Linked DNA regions of Homo sapiens: region 2 is linked to region 1. A link means that fine-mapping ties the variant in region 1 to the expression of a gene that starts in the linked region. Tissue or cell type: monocytes. Region 1 holds a variant in brackets; the other region holds the start of a gene. All regions are shown on one strand. Distances are between the middles of the regions.

Region 1 (10,277 bases):
TCACAGAGCAATACATTACTCACATTTGTGGTGATGCTGGTGTAAAGAAACCTACTATGCTGCCAGTCATATAGAAGTATAGCATGTACAATTATGTACAGTATATAATACTTGATAATGATAATAAATAGCTATGTTACTGGCTTATGTATTTATTATATGTACCTTTTAAATTATTTTTGAGTGTACTCCTTCTACTTGTATTTTTTAAAAAGTTAACTGTAAAACAGCCTCAGGAAGGTCTTTCAGCAGATATTCCAGAAAAAGGCATTGCTACCACAGAAGACAGCTCCATGCATGTTACTGCCCCTGAGGACCTTTCAGTAACAAAAGACATACAGGTGGAAGACAGTGATATCACATATCTTGATTCTGTGTAGGTCTATGCTAATATGTGTGTTTGTGTCTTCATTTTTAGCAAAAAAATTAAAACTTTTAAAAACGGGACAAAAGCTTATCGAATAAGGATATAAAGACAAAAACTATTTGTACACACTGTACAATATGTGTTTTAAGCTGCGTTATTACAAAACTCAAAAAGTTTTTTAAAACTTAGAAGTTTAAAAAGTAAAAATGTTACAGAAAGCTAAGGGTAATTTACTATTGAAGGAAGAAAAATATTTCTTATAATAGCATAGCCTAAATGTAGTGTTTATAAAGTCTACAGTAGTGTATAGTAATATCCTAGGCCTTCACACTCTCTCACTTACTCACCCAGAGCAACTTCCAGTCCTGTAAGCTCCATTCATGGTAAGTGTTCCATACAGGTATACCATTTTTTATCTTTTATACCACATTTTTACTATACCTTTTCTATGCTTAGATACACAAATACTTACCATTGTGTTACAACTGACTACAGTATTCAGAAAAGTAGCATACTGAACAGGTTTGTAGACTAGGAGCAATCGGCTATATACCATCTAGCCTAGGCCTGTAGTAGGTGATACCATCTAGGTTTGTGTAAGTGCACTCTATGATGTTCACACAATGACGAAATTGCTTGATGAGACATTCCTCAGAATATATTTAATAAATTGCTTAATGAGGCATTCCTCAGAATAAATCCCCATTGTTAAGTAATGCATTTTGCTAGGTGTTATGGAAAATTCCAGACTGAAAAAACTAGGGTGTCATCCCTCGAAGACTGCAGTCCAGGACAAGACACACACACATGATAATAACTCTTTTGAAAGGCAAATTGTCTTAATTGCTGTGCTAAAAGTATAAACTACTGTATAGAGAAAGAAAATATTAATTGCAACTAATGGCTAAGAAAAGACCTCTTGAAAGACATGGGGTCTGACCAACCCCACAAGAAGCTATGAGGAGAGTTGCAATCCAGACAAAGGGAAGGTTGACTCAACAACCCCTTTCCATGGGAGGAACAGGCCTCCCATGTGGCCGGGCCTCTGGAGCTTGGCAAGCGTATGCTGTGGAATTTAAGACCCATGGCTGAGTGGAGATCATTGGGAAGACTCTGGGATTTAGATTACAGAGTTTGGGAGTGTATGGATGCTTTGCCCCATAGTTTATCAGGATTATTTCAATCTTAAACAACCAGGGCTGTGGTTTTTGACCTTCTCTGTAGAAAGACACATTTGCATGTATATCATAAGGTATCCCGATCCCTCTTTCATTTGTTTTATTTCTTTAATCTACCTAAATTAAGACCTGAAAACTCAAGATCTTCCAAGTTATGAGCCCCATAAGAACCCATGGCTTCCAGGCGGAGGGGAAAGATACCACCTTTTCTATAAACTGAGACAAGATGGCAAAAGAATTGCCTAGAAGCCTAGTCCAGGTGCTGTTTTCTCAGCTACTCAAAGAGATCCTTCTTGCTCCTTTAGGAAAGGGGGATTCCTAGACCTCTCCAAACCTCAATCACCCTGGGATGCACAGATGCCAAGGGCTCGGGTGTAACCCTTAAAATCCCCGCTTCCCGGGGGTCAGCGGCACCATCAGCAGCACCGCAGTATAGAAGTTCCGGTCCTTCCAGCTGCTGGGATTCTCAGCTTGAACTCTTCCAGGAAACAAGTTCTTTTCCGCTTCTCTTGCGAAATCCAGCAGACCGTCCCGCCCTTCTCTGGCTTCTTATAGCAGCGAGAGCCACAAGCCACAGCGCTGAGCTGCAGGCGCGGCGAAACTTCCCTCTACCCGCCCGGCCCGCGGCGCGCACCGTTGGCGCTGGACGCTTCCTCCTTGGAAGCGCCTCTCCCTCAGGTGGGTCACTTTTCGCCACAAGGCTCCCGTCCCTTATCTGCTTCAGCTCACCTCCAGTCCCTGCTGCTAGGACCCCACTCCCCAGCCCATCGCACTGAAGAACAGGTGCTTGCAAACTCCCCGCCGCGCCCCGGCATCACTTTAGAGGAAAGTCACCTGAGGCTGCTCCGCGATTCAGCAAGCTTCTAACTTCCTGGAGTTTAAGGCTCATCCCTACCCCAGGGTGCAGACAAGCCCAAAGGGGGAAAATTAAGGGGTTAGATTCTTCTCTGCATCTTACTTCTGGATTGGCGCACTCTTGGGGCGCCCATCAAAAAGTAGGCTGGAAGAATGTGGCTTTAGCAGTCAGTCTCCAAGGTCTCAGATCCGAGGCTGCTTCTTGACCAGGCACTAAAAATTTGTCCTGATACCTGCAACCACTTCCATTTTTTTATCTTGATTTAAATTTCCTCTTGCAATTTAAAGGTTATTTTTCTGGAGGAAGATTGTTCAGAATATAATTTATTGTGAAGAGTAAATAAAGCCTCAGTTCCGTTTGTTTGTCCAGAGACAGAATTTTATTATTCTTTTTCCCACCTCTAGATGGTAATTTAGGAACTTTCTTTAAAAGATTGGTGTACTGAGGCTGGGTACGGTGGCTCAAGCCTGTTATCCCAACACTTTGGGAGGCCAAGGCCGATGGATCACTTGAGGTCAGGAGTTCGAGACCAGCCTGGCCAACATAGTGCAACCCAGTCTCTACTAAAAATACAAAAATTAGCCAGGCGTGGTGGCAGGTGCCTGTAATCCCAGCTACACAGGAGGCTGAGACAGGAAAATCACTTGAACCTGGGAGGTGGAGGTTGCAGTGAGCTGAGAAAGTGAATTGGATAGAGAATGGGGGAGGGGAGGAAGAATACTATTCCTAGTTCTATAATAACTAGAACCTCATTATCTCAGCCTCAGTTTCCACAGATGTAAAATAAAAGGCTGGCTACTGGGCCAGATGATCCAGAAAGTTCAACTCTAACAAGGTGAAAAGCCGTGACTAAAGATGCCTGCAAGTTTGAAATACATAGAAAATCTCCTTAATGCTACAACTATAATTCAGTGGTTACTTTTTTCATAATAATGCATGTTCCATTTTTATAAGGAAACTCTCCAGTTGTCGGGGGAAGAGTCTCTTCCCACAGGAGCATCTTAAAGTTCTGCCACATTTATCATTCAGAGAATACTCTCAGCTTTCAAAACCATTCTTCAGCCTTGCTATGTGAGAATGTCCTATTCCCTACAAATGGCAGTCATATAAATGTCACTCACATGAGAGAACATTTTTTTTTTCTGATACAGTAGGTATAATTTTGTAAAATGGCACATTTATTTGAAGCAGTAACTTTTCTGAGATATGGCCTTTTGCAAGGTCCCAAGTTTTTCAGAATGCTGTGATTTAGCACAATATGAGATTTGACCTGCATGTATTCTACCTGCATGGCAAACACTGCCAACCCAGAAAACAGGATGAGACACTTCCTATTTATCAGGCTCCAAGGCTGTAAAGTAAATGGTACATGTGTACAGAGAAATTGGGTCATAGCAGTTTTTCTATTTGGTAACGTTTACAGTTCCACTGAGGTTCACGTTGTTCACATTGTTGAAGTTCACATTGTTCAGAAACCAGGTGTACAAGGCCTGGCCCCTAGCTGAAGAACAATTTCCAGACTTCTGCCTTACTAAAGCTCGCTAACTGTTGTTTAGAAGGAACTAAACAGACTTTTTAAGATTGTTAATAAATTAAAAACCCCAGGCCTTGCACTATGTGTGAACAATTTTAAGAAAAATAAGGTCATTTGTTATGGAATTTTATATTCAAAGAAACTTGGAGTGGTCACTCTGCATTACTTTGTCTCTTGAAGGACTTCCCCTGAATCACCCTACTATTATTAATACTGTTATTAAAAGGATATAAATTCTCCTTTTAAAGGCTGGGTAGCTGATTCTGTTGTCACTCTCAGGAACACATTCCACTGTTTTAGGATCCTTACCACCTAGTTCTCTTCATAATTAATTTAGACGTGTTTATCAAATGCTACTTAAAAATCATTTTTTTTTTGGAAAATCTTAGGAAATCTGATAAGTTGCTAGCAAACACACACACACACACACACACACACAACAGCAGCAACACAGTAGTCCTTCAAAACCTGAAGATTGGGCACTTTGCTAGGGCACTTTGTAGCTAGTTTTTTCTGGGTTGTCCTCTGAGAAGGTAATTTGCTAGTGCCTGCAGCTACATCTACCAATAATTCTTACTATAACAATGCAGAGTAGGATGGGGATAGTGAAGTTTTCTGGGTGGGATTTTGTTTGTTTGTTTGTTTTTTTGTTGTAAGTTTATGCCAGATAATAATAATGTAAGGTTTACAGAGATAAGATCTCTGAAGTTACCTGTCTCTGTTCTTCACAGATTTTTTTTTATTATTATACTTTAAGTTTTAGGGTACATGTGCACAATGTGCAGGTTAGTTACATATGTATACATGTGCCATGCTGGTGCGCTGCACCCACTAACTCGTCATCTAGCATTAGGTATATCTCCCAATGCTATCCCTCCCCACTCCCCCCATCCCACAACAGTCCCCAGAGTGTGATGTTCCCCTTCCTGAGTCCACGTGTTCTCATTGTTCAGTTCCCACCTATGAGTGAGAATATGCGGTGTTTGGTTTTTTGTTCTTGCGATAGTTTACTGAGAATGATGATTTCCAATTTCATCCATGTCCCTACAAAGGACATGAAAAGAGACTGGTTTACTAATTAGGAAAACTTCCTGAACAGTTCTATATACTGTGTTAACTCCACTCAAGATATTTCTGATGACTTTTAGGTCATTTCCAAAGTGATTTGAATTAGTATTTGTCCTTTTGTTAAGAAGAAATCAGTCCTGGAAGGAATCAAACTAAATAAATAACTAAAGAATAATTAATGCATAAAACAAGGCATGCTAAGAAAACATTCTTGGCCTACATAGATTAACAATTTGTTCTTCCCAAATCATTAAGGAATAGAAAACAATGAATCCTTGTGCTGTTTAAAGATCCTCTTTCAGAAACATATCATTGCAAAAGAACACACTATTCTACTAAAGGAAGTATATACACTCTAATTAACTAGGCAGGACATTGACATCCCAATCTAAATTCTTCTCCACAATGTTCTGTAAGAGTTTATTCAGCCATGTGTGGAGAGGTTTACTGTACTGTACTTTGGCAGTCACATATTTCTGAAAAGCTATTTTGGGAGGACTTTTTTTTTTTTTTTTTGAGACTGAGTCTCGCTCTGTCACCCAGGCTGGAGTGCAGTGGCAGGATCTTGCCTCACTGCAACCTCTGCTCCTTGGGTTCAAGCAGTTCTCCTGCCTCAGCCTCCTGAGTAGCTGGGATTATAAGTGCCCACCACAATGCCCAGCTAATTTTTTTATGTTTAGTAGAGAAGGGGTTTCGCCGTGTTGGCCAGGCTTGTCTGGAACTCCGGTCCTCAGGTGATCCATCCGCCTTGGCCTACCAAAGTGCTAGGACTACAGGTGTGAGCCACCGCGCCCGGTTGGAGTTTT[T/G]TTTTTTTTTTTTTTTTTTTTAATGCAGATTATATGATCAATCCTAACATCAGGATAAAGTTCCCTTTTCATCTTAAAAGGAAGGAAAATGTTTGCAAAGAGTAATTTTGAAAAGTTAGGAACTATAATTCTAAATAAAAAGAAGGCTAAAAGAAAATAAAACTATATAGCACAGCTCTTGGAAGATTATTAGTAGAATACAAGCTAGTCAGTTTGGCCTCAGCACCCAATTTTTTTTTTTTTTTTTTTTTTTTGAGACAGTCTCACTCCTTCACTCAGGCTGGAGTACAGTAGCGCGATGTCAGCTCACTGCAACCTCCATCTCCTGGGCTCAAGCAATTCTCCTGCCTCAGCCTCCTGAGTAGCTAGAATTAAAGGCATGCACCACCAAGCCTACCTAATTTTTGCATTTTTAGTAGAGATGGGGTTTCGCCATTTTTGCCAGGCTGGTCTTCAACTCCTGACCTCAAGTGATCTGCCTGTCTTGGCCTCCCGAAGTGCTGGGATTACAGGCGTGAGTGACCGCACCTGGCCAGCACCCAATATTAAGGAAAAAAAAATGCATTAAGAACAGAGCCAGGGCTCAGAGAGCTGATGGCACCAGCACTGTGGAGCGTAGAAATAGGAAGGGATAATTAATGGTCATCGCTGATTGTTCATCTTTCATCTATACCTGCTCTTTTTACAGGGTGTGAAAACAGTTTTGAGCTCAAGTTAAATTGTGGCTGCAAAACTTTTGCACAGACTTTGGAAAACTTACTTGTTCCGCTTCCTGGCAGATTCAAGTCCCTCCTAGCCTGTAGGCGCCCATCCTCTCTACACATTCGTCTGCTCTGGCCATTACACTATGCATTGCAACAATTTGATTATATGCTTCATCTTTCCCAAGACCAAAGCTCCTTGAGGACAGGGTCCATCTCGTTTCTCACTTTATCCCTCTTAGTGTGGCTATTCAATAAATCTCTGTTGAAAGCAAGGCATTGCTAATAACACTGATTTTTATTTTTGGAAGATACTTACCTTATGGACATAGTACATAATGAGTATGGATGCTGCCTGCACAATATTAGTTAACAGGGTCAAAGTGCAGTGGCAAAGTCCACATTTTAACTTCCTACCATTCAGGGAGAGGCATGAGGTTGCTTTGAACTGTATAGCACATATAAAGTGAATAGTTGAAATTATTATAACATTTTATTTAAAGTAGAAGAAACTGCAGGAACCTTGGTATTTCCTGATTTAGTGTCCCTATTATGTTGCTATACTGTATTGTAGTTACAAATTTATTTGTAATATTTTGTATTCTAATTCGTTTTAAAGAGTGATATGGGGCCAAACACGGCGGCTCACGCCTGTAATCCCAGCACTGTGGGAGGCTGAGGCGGGCGGATTGCCTGAGCTCAGGAGTTCAAGATGAGCCTGGCCAACATGGTGAAACCACATCTCTACCAAAAATACAAAAATTAGCTGGGCGTGGTGGTGCACACCTGTAGTCCCTGCTACCTGGGAGGCTGAGGTGGGAGAATAGTTTGAACCCAGGAGGCTGAGGTGGGAGAATAATTTGAACCCAGGAGGTAGAGGATGGCACCACCGCACTCCAGCTGTCTGGAAAAAAAAAAAGTGATATGGGGCCAGGTGCAGTGGTTCACACCTATAATCCCAGCACTTTAGGAGGCTGAGGTAGGAGAATCACTTGAGACCAGGAGTTCAAGACTAGCCTGGGCGATGGTAAGACCCCATCTCTACAAAAAATAAAAATTAAAACGTTAGCTAGGTGTAGTAGTGCATACATGTAGTCTCAGCTACTTGGGAGGCGGAAGTGGGAAGATCTCTTGAGCCTGGGAGGTCAAGGCTGCATGAGCCATGATCATGCCACTGCACTCCTGCCTGGGTGACAGAGCAAGACCCTGTCTAAGAATGATATGCTCTTCTCCAGTACCAAAGTACTAAAGTGATTTATTCATCCTATTCAATTCCCTGACATAAGTGGCACAAGAAATGGGAGGAGATTGAGGAGAAAGCAATTAGCTGGTTGGTAAATGGTTCATTGCAGTTAATAATGAAAGTGTGCCAGTTGCCTCTGGTTTTCATAGTTGAGATCCTAAACTGCACTTACCCTAGTTCTGAGGTGTGTCTGAATAACTTTAAAATACGTGCTGGGGATGGTGGTACACAGATGGGTCCCTGTATCTATCTCCCTTAGGGAACCAAGAGTCTAAAGCTATCAGGTTTATAGCTAAAATTGTGTTGATGCCATGTGTGAGGTAGAGAGGGTCTGGAACCTTTGTTGGGGTAGGGAAACCACAAGGATTCTGTTTTCCTAAAGAACTTAGGAGCCTTGTAAGAAGGTGAGGCCATAAGAAAATAGATTTATGCTCAGATTCAGCCAGGACTGGGAAAATGGTATTATCCCATCAGCCCAAATATTTTCCCATTTTTGTGGTCACATTCCAGAGTCTTGGGGAAAAGGGTAAAAGAAGCAGGGGAAGAACCAGTGGTATGTTGGTAAATGCCTCTCTAAGGAAAAAAAAAGTCCTGATTTGTAGCACTTGGTGATTGTCATAAGGTAAAAACTCCTACTGTGACTGATTTCAAGCTCCCAGCTGGCAAGCTGGCCACAGCCACACCACTGAAAGGCTGAGATTAAAAACCTGAAAACTAGGCCAGGCACAGTGGCTCATACCTGTAATTCTAGCGCTTTGGGAGGCCAAAGGTGGGCAAAGTGGCATAGGGGATGTGGAGGGAGGGGCTGATTACTTGAGGCCAGGAGTTTGAAACCAGCCTGGCCAACATGGTGAAACCCAGTCTCTACTAAAAATACAAAAAAAAATGAGCTGGACATGGTGGCACGCACCTGTGATCCCAGCTACTCAGGAAGCTGAGGCATGAAAATCACTTGAACCCAAGAAGCAGAGGTTGCAGTGAGCTGAGATCACACCGCTGCACTCCAGCTTCGGCGACAGAGCAAGAGTATGTCTCAAAAACTAAAATAAAATAAAAACCTTGAAACTAAAAAGAAAGAGCTGTTTATTTTAAAATATTTATCAACTAGCAATGCTCTCAAGCTTGTATATCAGAATATTACAAAAGGTTAGAAGAAGGAATTTCAAGAGCACTTTCTCCCCTGAGGTCAGAAATGGAGCAGCTGCAAGGCCAGATTATAGCCAGCAGCTCCATCTGATGGGTCTCAGCAAACATCAGAGGCACTGGGGCCATGGGGAGTCCTTGCCTCTGAGTGCCGTATTAGAAGTTACCCAAAAGAAGATGAAGTAGGCTATATTCATAAGCATTGTGGACTGCCCCCAGAGATTTCTAAAAATGGTTGGGAGATACCTTAAAGCAGAATGGAGTTCCTCCAACAGCAAGGAATGGGGGTGGGGTCAAGATCCACAACAAAACTGCTTTCTCCAAACTAACTGGCAGTTATTGATATTTAGATAATTCCTATTGGCCTTAATCTAAAGATAAATGCCCATTCTTAAGAAATTTTATTTGAACAAAGTTAATTCAAAATTGAAATTACAAATTACTTCCCAAATATCTCTGACCACAATAGACCTAGAAAAGCAAAACCCACTAATGAACACTAAATATTAGGGGAGTTGATGCAGATCATCAGATTAAGCAAATGCTTATGTAGTATGTACAAGCCAAATGCCACCAAAGCCATGAGATAGAGCTGTTTTTCTGATAGTGGCAATCCACTGGTCCTGGTCATGACCAGATGCCTAATCTTTGGTGACCCACAGATTTGTAAGAAGTTGTTCAGGATTTAAAATGTAAATGGAAGTCAAGGTAAATTAACCCAGAGACACGACTGAATCCCTGACCTTGTTGTCATGAGTCCTGGGCTTTAATCAGATAAACTAACCAGCTTGGACAGCAGATAATGAACCTACCTGATGAAATTCTTGGCCAGAGAATTATAAAACAATCTTAATTTATCTTGACAGATACTGCTGAGATCGAAATGTGGCAACATGTATTAATGAGATTTTTAATTGAACTAGAATTTCGACAAAGAACCTAAATTTAAGATAAATAAGTTTATCCTAAAATACAATTAAAATAGTTAACATAGATCTCTATTACCTCACTTTCCTCATAATTTATAGTGTTAGTAAAATATTACTAACAATCACTTTAGTTGCCGCATATGACATAGTTAGTTCATAGCTAGTTGTTAGCAATTCATGTAGGATACATCTCTATAGAACATTAATGTAAAGATTGCCTTTAATTATGCTCTTGTGACTTGATGAAACTGTGCAAGTTAAGATTACTGTGTTTTTGTGTGCCATTCTATTGTCTAGCATAAAAAATAATCAGCAAATTCAGTTGCTATGGGATACAAAACATTTTCTCACAAAACAATTGAAATAATCAGTTTTTTAGCAACCAACCTGAAGTAGTTTCTTTATGTAGAAAAAGAGCTTTAAATGATATATTTATATTAATCTATAGCAAT
Region 2 (10,277 bases), 83 kb after region 1:
AGTACAAGCCTCAGACAAAAACTAATTACAGCCAGTTCTTGCATTCATTTCTTGACCTCCCTTTAGCTACCCCTTTAGCCATGCATATTTACATCTTGTTCATCAAAAAATAATTATCTGCACTAAAATGAACTCTTATCATTGATAGTAATAGCATTACCTAGATGTACATTATTTTAGACAATTGCTTTAAATTTAATATTCTGATTTCTGAAACACATTCTGTTCAGGAAAAGAAAAAACAATGTCTCCAAATTCTTGATCCAATAGAAATTGCATAATCTTAAAAGGAAGAGTCCTGAGAGAATAGCGTGAGGTTGAGAAAAGATCTGAAGTGACAAGATAAGCAATTAATACTGGAATTGCTATTAGTCTGGTAACCTTCAGCAAGTCAGAGTCTCAGTTTCCTCATCTTGTAAAGTAGAAATAATCTAACTGGCATGGCTGGGTAAAGTTTAAGTAGGCCATCAGAAAATACTTTGTAGTCCATAGAGCATTAACTCATCCAGGCCCCTACTCAAAGTACAAAACTGCCCTTTAGCATCACTGACAGCCTCTTCTTGATCACTTCTAGTGATGGGGAACTCATCTTTGGAAGGTCATTTTTGACAGCCCTAATGATAAGAAAGTATATATATAAAGTGTGTGTGTGTTTGTAAAAATACACACATATATTTACATATGTACAATGATATACATACATACACATATATGTATATAGGCATATATATTTAGCCATAATAAATTCCTCCAACATCAGCTTCCTGGTTAATCCTGATCATCAACTCCAGCTCAGAGCTTCATTAAGGGAAGGAACAGGTCAGTGAGAATCTATTCTGTAGGAACAGGAACATGGGAACGTTTGTCACAGAGCTGATGACTGCCCTTGCTGTGTTTTGTTAATAACTGATTTATCTTGCTTATCATGCCTATTCCAGGCAAGTAGAATGAGTTTGCTTTCTCTGAGTTCCAGGGAGGAGGAAGCCAACACAGATGAAAGGGTCCCTGTGCTGTTCAAGAGGGTAGCACTAGCCACACAGCTATTCCATTTTAAATTAAACTAAATTAAAATTTTAGTTCCTCATTTCACAGGCTCAATAGCCATATGTGATTAGTTATTGTGTGGCATAGTTATCAAACATTTCTATTGTAGCAGAAGTTGTTTGAAGAGCTGTGGTTGATGATTCATTACCATCTACAATATGCCAGGGACCAGTTAAACTCTACATGCAAGCACTAAAACATCAATAGTGGAAGTTTTCTATCCCTTGAAAAAATTACATAATAGCATGATTAACTGAGCTCTTACTCCGGACAGTTCAAGAAAAAGGGTGGCTTTTATTCCCAAATGAACATCATAGGCTTCACACTCTTTCCCAACAATCTTAAGAAAGTGGAGATACTATTAATTGGTTACCTATGTTGTTATCAAATGCTCATTTCCACTTACATTTGGAGATCTGAGCTTCTCTCTAAGGCAGAGGTCTTTAAATCATGAGGTGCCACACCCAGATCAGAACTAAACAAAAATTGAAACTTTAAATTGGCAAATGTCATTGCTCATTTCTTCCTAACAAGTGAAGACCTATGGTTAATTCAACTGCAGGTATGGTGAAATAACTACAGTTACTTAGTTAGACACTATTTCTTTCACCACTTATCTGAGCGAAGAAGTCCAGGTTGGATACTATATGTAGAGCTTTATATTAACTTTTCTCCAGGAATAAGAAAGTGTCCACACTGCCGTTTGTCTTGAAAACATAATTAGGGAAGGTGTACCACAAAAGAATGGGATTCTCTCTGAGAGCATGTTTATCTACTGTCACAGCTTTAATTGGGAAGGGTGAAATATCTACATCTGGCTAGGTCTGCTCTTCAAGAGCTGGGGCCAGATATTTGCCATCTCTCAGCCTTGGTCTTTTCTTCTGTAAACAGCAGGATTGGAGTATATGATCAGAAAGGTTTCTGTAATTCCAATGACTTCCCAAAATAACCATGACCTGCATCCTATCTATAAACCTCACATAGTTCTCTCCCTAACCCATGCTGTTGTCACAACCCTCCTACAGTCTTTTTTTTAGGACTTAGTAAATCGTTCTGACAAATAACTGTATTCTACCCATAGGCTTTATCTTACAGTCAGCAAATCATTTGCTAAAGTGCTAAACTGCCAGAGTCATAAGCCCGCATTCTGGAGGGGCTTCCAGCAGTGGTTGGTAAACTACTGCCCAAAGGCCAAATCTGACCCACCTCCTATTTCTGTACATCCAAGAGCTCAGAATAATATTTACATTTTTAAATGGTTGGAAAAATAAAATTAAGCATAATATTTCATGTCATATGAAATTCAAATTTCAGTGTCTATAAATAAAGTTGCATTGGAACCCAGCGACATCCATTCATTTATCTATTGTCTATGGATACTTGTGGCCTACACAGCAGAGTTGAGTGGTATTTGGCCATACCACTATGACTACATAGTCTACATACCACTATGTATGTAGACTCTCTCATACAGAGACTGTATGGCCCACAGGCCTAAAATATTTACTACCTGGCCCTTTACCTGCCCCTGGGTGTAGAGCACAGACTCTAGAGTCAGATGGCTTGGCAGCATAGCTCAGCTCTGTTCTGTTCCTTCCCCTTCCTCAAAACTGTATAATAGGAATGACAATAGTACCTATCCCATGGGTTTTTATTAAGATTAAGCAAATAAGTAAAATGCGATGAGGATCTGGCATATTTTTATTATTATATATATGTCTGATGGTATTATAAGTTGCCACAATTTTTTCCAGCAAACTAAAGTATTAGCAGCTGACCAATTTGTTAGCAATAATTGTAAGAATTGAATTTGCAACACTCCATTAAAATTCAATTCTTTGTCAGATGAGTAGGTAGCGAAAATTTTCTCCCATTTTGTAGGTTGCCTGTTCACTCTGATGGTAGTTTCTTTTGCTGTGCAGAAGCTCTTTAGTTTAATTAGATCCCATTTGTCAATTTTGTCTTTTGTTGCCATTGCTTTTGGTGTTTTGGACATGAAGTCCTTGCCCATGCCTATGTCCTGAATGGTAATGCCTAGGTTTTCTTCTAGGGTTTTTATGGTTTTAGGTCTAACGTTTAAATCTTTAATCCATCTTGAATTGATTTTTGTATAAGGTGTAAGGAAGGGATCCAGTTTTAGCTTCCTACATATGGCTAGCCTGTTTTCCCAGCACCATTTATTAAATAGGGAATCCTTTCCCCATTTCTTCTTTTTGTCAGGTTTGTCAAAGATCAGATAGTTGTAGGTATGCGGCGTTATTTCTGAGGGCTTTGTTCTGTTCCATTGATCTATATCTCTGTTTTGGTACCAGTACCATGCTGTTTTGGTTACTGTAGCCTTGTAGTATAGTTTGAGGGCTAATATCCAGAATCTACAGTGAACTCAAACAAATTTACAAGAAAAAAACAAACAACCCCATCAAAAAGTGGGCGAAGGACATGAACAGACACTTCTCAAAAGAAGACATTTATGCAGCCAAAAAACACATGAAAAAATGCTCATCATCACTGGCCATCAGAGAAATGCAAATCAAAACCACTATGAGATACCATCTCACACCAGTTAGAATGGCAATCATTAAAAAGTCAGGAAACAACAGGTGCTGGAGAGGATGTGGAGAAATAGGAACACTTTTACACTGTTGGTGGGACTGTAAACTAGTTCAACCATTGTGGAAGTCAGTGTGGCGATTCCTCAGGGATCTAGAACTAGAATTACCATTTGACCCGCCATCCCATTACTGGGTATATACCCAAAGGACTATAAATCATGCTGCTATAAAGACACATGCACACGTATGTTTATTGCGGCATTATTCACAATAGCAAAGACTTGGAACCAACCCAAATGTCCAACAATGATAGACTGGATTAAGAAAATGTGGCACATATACACCATGGAATACTATGCAGCCATAAAAAATGATGAGTTCATGTCCTTTGTAGGGACATGGATGAAATTGGAAATCATCATTCTCAGTAAACTATCGCAAGACCAAAAAACCAAACACCGCATATTCTCACTCATAGGTGGGAACTGAACGATGAGATCACATGGACACAGGAAGGGGAATATCACACTCTAGGGACTGTGGTGGGGTGGGGGGAGGGGAGAGGGATAGCATTGGGAGATATACCTAATGCTAGATGACGAGTTAGTGGGTGCAGCGCACCAGCATGGCACATGTATACATATGTAACCAACCTGCACAATGTTCACATGTACCCTAAAACTTAAAGTGTAATTAAAAAAAAAATTCAATTCTTTAGCAGTAAAGCAGTGGGAAGATGTCTAAGGACAACTGATATGCCAATTCGTATAGCCGTTTATCCACGAAGCTAATTCTGCAGTACTTAAAAATATTTTATATGCTTTATACTTCTTTCAAACTTGAGTCTTGAGCTTGTACTCAACATCGAGTTCGGCCCTGACATCTACTCTTTATAGTCGGTTACCTCTTTCTGAAGAAACAGGCTTCCAAAGAGAGACCAGGGGACTCATTAGATGTCTCATCTACCTTGATGATTGCTACCTTGATGATTGAAAACAGTAACCTGCTTCCTGAATCAAACACAAAACAGGCAACATGCAGTGTCTTTGCTATGCCACAACAGGGACTATTAGAATTTTTCTCACAATTCGGACTTTGGTTTTCAAAAGGGCTTGCGAGGGAAGTTACACACAAGAGAAAAACAATGAACCGAATGAGGACAATAGCCCACGAATTTAGAATGGAGGAAGCCCGTCCACCACAGCGAAAAAGCACAGTACCACATTGGCGGGTGCTCCAATATTTGTGAAATGTTGATGACCCTTTAAATGTTTCTGTGCAACCTCCACAACAAATACTGTGAATCTTGCTTATTAATGCGTTTCTCAATACGTTAAAATTCAGGAAATCATTAAGTCTAGTCCTTAACAGTGAAGGGCAAGCAATTTTCTGTCATTGAAATTACACAAAACAAAACAAAAAGCTCACGCCTGAATTGCTTCGGACTATTCAACTGGAAGATAGAAAAATATATGAAGTAAAGAAGAATAACCTACATAGAAGTTCCTATCTCTTATCTTCCTGAATACTTACCAGTACACTATTAGTTTGTTCTAAACTTTTCTTATATAAAAAGTAGCTGAATACTTTTAGGGAAATGGATTGTTTTGTCTGAATCATCCAGATAATTCAAACAATTCATTTTCCTAAGAACGATATGTGTGAGTCTGTCCTGCCCGGAAAATGCCCTCTGTCCTACTCAGGACACAAGTCACGCTCAGCTTAAACAGGCAAGGAATTGTCCCCTAGGAAGGAAATACGCCGTTGTCGTTCAGTGAACTCTGCAACCAACAGCAAGCCAAACTCTCCCTTGCACACAGTTCGTCAAGTTAATTCTTATTTTCCAAGGGCGCTTTCGTATTTCCATCTTTCAAAGACTCCTTCACCCACTGGCACCTAAGGCTTGCCCTAACGCATCCAGCCCCTGCCTCGCGATGGTGCGCTCCGCTTATAATAGCTCCGTCCTGTCCAATAAAGTTGTTTAAAATAAGAAATGTGCCAGATAATAGCCAAGTCCGAAGGAAAAAAAAAAAAAAAGAATTCCTGGGGTGGTGTATTGGTGTTGGAATGTGCCATTAGTTTTGGAGGGAGGAAAGTCCCTGGTGTGAATTGCCTCGCAGGTCGTAGGCCGCCACTGGACCTTCAGTCGTGCACTGCATTAGCGCCGTAATGGCAAAGATACGAAGAAGCGCGCAGGCAGGGGAGCCACGGCCGCGCGCACAGGCAAGAGCTGGAGACGACTGCGGAGCGCGTCCCCCACGCCCGCGTGGTGCGCTCTGGGGCGGCCCCCTAGCGGCAGGGCGGGGCGGGGCAGGGGGCGGAGAGGCCTGGCGCACAGGGCGAGGGCGGCTGCGGCGCAGTCTGCAGCATGGCGTACCCGGGGCATCCTGGCGCCGGCGGCGGGTACTACCCAGGCGGGGTAAGTGCTGACTGCGCGGGATCGCGGCCCAGGCGGCTCCGGGGCGCTAAGAGGCCACCTTGGAGATGCTGCGGCCAGCGGGGTGAGGCGCTGCTGGGCGGCTACCCGGGCTCCTTCCGCCCTCGGCTTCTCCCTGCGCTCGCGGCCTCGCCCTAGGCCCCTGGGGTTCGGCCTCTCCCCACGTTTCCCCGTCCCTTCTCCTGGATGGCCCTGCGGGGCCAAGGTGAGGGTGGATTGGGACCCTAGAAGCCCACCCTGCGGCTTCTCGGATACGCGGCGTGAAATCGTGTTAATTGGGTGTTGGCTGACCCCCACCCCACCCCACCCCCGCCTTCTTGGTTGCCTCCCAGAGCAACAACAGTCATTTTATTCTAGAATGATATACCTTCCTCCCTTTAAAAAACAAACAAACAAACAAACAAACAAACAAACAAAAAACGAGTGAGAAGGGGGACGGAAAAAAAGGGAAAACCTGCTGAAGTAAAAGACCTGTAGGAAGGCAGCCTCGCCGGGCGTCTGGGATGCGCGTTGTCTTGGGAACTGTTTCCGAGACAGGCAATGTTCCCTCGCCACCCACGAGATACAGCCCGGCCGGACACCTTACTCTTCCCTAGGCTACACCCGTCTCAGAATGTTACCAACTCCAGCCTTCCATCGTTCATAAAACGCTCTTAAAATACCATAAATGCTGTAACAACAAAAGGAGAATTTGAAGCCCTGCCATTCGTTGGCTTACCTAGTTTGCACTCACCTCAGTAACCTTCAGGTTAATAGGGATTTTAAAAGTTGCTTTACATATGTAGACATCACTTTCACAGCAACTCTTTATGGTCTAAGTCGCCAGTTTTTAAATTACGGGGTGTGAATGGAAGAGAGGGGTGGAGTGTTGGCAGAGTGTGCCCGGTGGTGGGGAGGTGAGCCTTGTGAAGGGCGGGCAGGCGGGCAGTTGTCTGGCCTTGCACAAAAGCCCTCAGTGGTGAAAGAAGAAAACTTGATTCGGCAGAATGACGTGTATGTGTTTCCTGTTTCACAGTATGGAGGGGCTCCCGGAGGGCCTGCGTTTCCCGGACAAACTCAGGATCCGCTGTATGGTTACTTTGCTGCTGTAGCTGGACAGGTTAGCTTTTCCCTTTAATATTAAAGAGCCGTTATTGTCTGCATTTGTGGTAGCTTTTGATATAGTGACACAGAAAAGCGAACTTCCTGTGGTACTGAGTCCCTTTGCTTCTGCAAAAGAAAAAAAAAGTTGTTTCTTATTTTAGTTTTTTATTTCTGAATGTTCAGAATAAATGAGGACAAAGTGTTACTCGTATTTATGTGAGTTCAGTTCGAAAGCAAACTTGTGGTTGAATTAAAGGGTCCAGGATGGTTTCAAGCGAAAAAATTCAAGATCTGGTAAATATAAACGCTTGTTTGTACAACTTAAAGACATATATTAGTAATTACATAGCTCGATTCTAATGGGCACTTTCTTTGGGTTGAACTTGATTGCTAATCATTCACCCCCTTAGGAAATATGGTAAAAACCCACCAGCTTCTAAATAAGGAAGTTACTGTTCCCTTCTTAGTATCAGAAAGTTAATCTTGTGAACAGTGTAGTTTCTCTTTGATGCAGATGCTGTTACTAGGTCAGCCCCTCCATGTCCTTATTAGGTGTTCTGGCCTGTTGACCCAGAGAAGCAATTAAGGTCAGCTCCCCAAGACCTTTCACTTGTCTGCATTCTGAGTTGTATGACAGGTGCTATCTTACATTGACAGGTGCTATCTTACATTGAGAGAGGACACTTCCCTAGTTCATGAGGTCACTGTGTGCAGTAAATATACTGTTGGTATAACCCAGACACGTCCAGAGGAGATGTTTGTTCTTATGAATTCAACCTAGTTTTGTTTTGACCAAAAGCTAGAAATAGCAAAATCTTAATGTGAAAACTGTAGAATATTATGGGATAAAAAACCTAAGACCACTTTTAAGGTAGTACTCTAAGAAATACAGCTTAAGAAATTGAATGGAAAATATAGTCTAAAACTGGAAGACCTTCCCCTTAAGTATCTACTTAAACTGTTAATGATCTGTATCTTTGAAACCACAAGGCATGGCAAACCTCAAGACTAGCATTCTTAGATTGCCAGTGCCTCCAGCATGTAAGTGACTCCACCTGCTTAGCTTTCAGCAGCCCTGGCCTGTATTCAGCATACCCATTGTCTTTCAAATTGCTGATCTTGCTCCTCATTTATAACTTATAATACCCAGTGACTTGAAGATTTAGGTATTTTATTTTAAAGTCCCTAAAAATCACATATATCTAGTTCTTTCCCAGTTCAGCCAGTGAATGGGCACTGGGAACCTAATGTGAATCTTCCAGATGTATTTGTGCTCTGAAAAAAATGATTCACTATATCATAAGAAAAAGTGACCAAGGAGGCCTTTTTCTGTTTGAACCAAGCCTTCTATTTATTGATGTCTGCTTTGTACCTTGCTCTCTCCACCCCCATCAAAAAAAAATATTTTAAAATGTTTAGCTGTAGCAGTTTGCTAGCTCAGATTGAGAGAAGAGTAGTTGCCAAGACAGACTCTTTCTTTCATCATTAAATTACTTTTGGAAGTGGGTTAAGGAAAAGAATGCCCACTTTTGGAAGGCATTCCTTTTAATAAAAAAAAGGCATTCCTTTTAAATAAAAAAAAGATACTGATTTTCTTTGTTGTTATTGCTTCATTGAATGCTGAAGGTAAACAACTTGAAAGTACAAATCACTATTATGATTCCTCTAATTTTTTTTCAAAAGGATGGGCAGATAGATGCTGATGAATTGCAGAGATGTCTGACACAGTCTGGCATTGCTGGAGGATACAAACGTAAGTTGACAGTCCCAAAGTTTGTCTAAATATACTCTTGTGTTTCCTATCTTAGCTGTTACTTGTGATTACAGCCTTCAAGAAAACTGAGCTTGTCGGATCTAGCAAAGTTTAGAATTCCGAAAGCTAAAATACAGTACTATTTCAAAATGTTGATTTGAAAACAGTTTTTAAATCACTCCAGGCTGGGCACAGTGGCTCACACCTGTAATCCCAGTACTTCAGAGGCCCAGGCAGGAGGATCGCTTGAAGCCAAGAGTTTTTGGCTGCAGTAATCTATGATTGTACCACTGCACTCCAGCCTGAGCAACAGAGCAAGACCTTGTCTTTAAAATAATAATAATAATAAATTATTCCATCCTACCTGCCAATCTAGTGGATTTCTCAGATTTGGGTTTTGTGTACCTAGAACCAGTGAGACAGTTTGGGTGGCCTCCTTCACAGAGGACAAGGTAGGGTGCTGAAATGGAATCTGCCAGGTCAGGGGTCATTAACTGACATTAGGAACTGATATTTACTGTTATTTGCCAAGAGCCTACTCTGCCCTGACCTGGTGGCACTTAGGGCTTTGAGTTGCTGCCCTGCACCCCTGGTCCCTGAGTGGCCTATCCTGCACTCCTGGTCTCTGAGCTTTGGGCATGCTCCTGCTAACATAAGTGGTTGCCATGACATCCCTCAGGTCTTTCCTCTTCCACTTCATAGAATGTATTCAGGCTAAGTGGGAAGTGGCCTTTCTACTTACTGGACCTGCTGCTCCATAATTCAGCCCTTACCCTACCCCTGCCTTTTGAACACTCTGCCATGAGCTGAGAGTAATGAAATACTGCAAAGATGCTCCATCCCTGGCAGGGCACAGTGGCTCACACCTGTAATCCCAGCACTTTAGGAGACTGAGGTGGGAGGATTGCTTGAGCCCGGGAGTTCAAGACTAGCCTGGGCAACATAGTGAAACCTTGTCTCTGCAAAAAATTTAAAAATTAGCCAGGCATGGTGGCATGCACCTGTGGTCCCAGCTACTCAGGAGGCTGAGGTGGGAGGATTATACAAGCCCAGGAGGCGGAGGTTGCAGTGAGCCAAGATTGTGCCACTGCACTCCAGCCTGGGTGACAGCCTGTCTCAGAAAATCCAAAAAATTGCTGCATCCCAACTGGGGGCTTCTCATCATCCAACACATATGAAGTGGTTCCTCTTGAAATTAGATCTTGAACATGATAGATTTCCAGGGTAGAGAATAATGTCTTAGTTCAAATACATTACCAACTTCTTTGCCAGTTGTTAATTGAGACAAAACATCAAATTGAAGACCCAATTTCATGGTTAGCTGTGGATTAAAATGTTCAAACTAGAATTCACAGCTGTGAATTTATAGTGGCCTTTTTTTAAAAACTATTTGACATGGCATGTATTA

Alleles and levels. Positions count from the first base shown, and alleles are read on the strand shown. Sizes are in standard deviations (SD) of each study's normalised expression.
In carriers of allele G in region 1, the expression in monocytes of the gene that starts at base 5,953 in region 2 tends to be higher than with T alone (moderate effect, 0.62 SD a copy in BLUEPRINT).

Evidence for each region. PIP is the estimated chance that this variant, and not a neighbour inherited with it, causes the effect.
Region 2: it holds the start of SRI, and the variant in region 1 is fine-mapped to the expression of SRI in monocytes (BLUEPRINT, PIP 0.95).

What each region holds. Positions count from the first base shown.
Region 1 is chr7:88,298,738-88,309,014 of GRCh38, reverse strand. It overlaps STEAP4 (STEAP4 metalloreductase), which reads left to right and starts at 2,121. Exons shown (of 5, transcript NM_024636.4): 1 at 2,121-2,223. The region is part of intron 1 of LOC124901692 (a long non-coding RNA gene); the gene reads right to left. The variant T/G (reference allele first, on the strand shown) is at 5,810.
Region 2 is chr7:88,215,714-88,225,990 of GRCh38, reverse strand. It overlaps SRI (sorcin), which reads left to right and starts at 5,953. Exons shown (of 8, transcript NM_003130.4): 1 at 5,953-6,015; 2 at 7,049-7,132; 3 at 8,800-8,869. The coding sequence starts at 5,965. It overlaps SRI-AS1 (SRI antisense RNA 1), which reads right to left and starts at 9,331. Exons shown (of 3, transcript NR_120517.1): 1 at 9,234-9,331; 2 at 6,767-7,242. LOC124901691 (a long non-coding RNA gene) reads left to right here and starts at 9,407. Exons shown (of 2, transcript XR_007060419.1): 1 at 9,407-9,548. RefSeq lists silencers at 5,731-6,230, 6,878-6,967.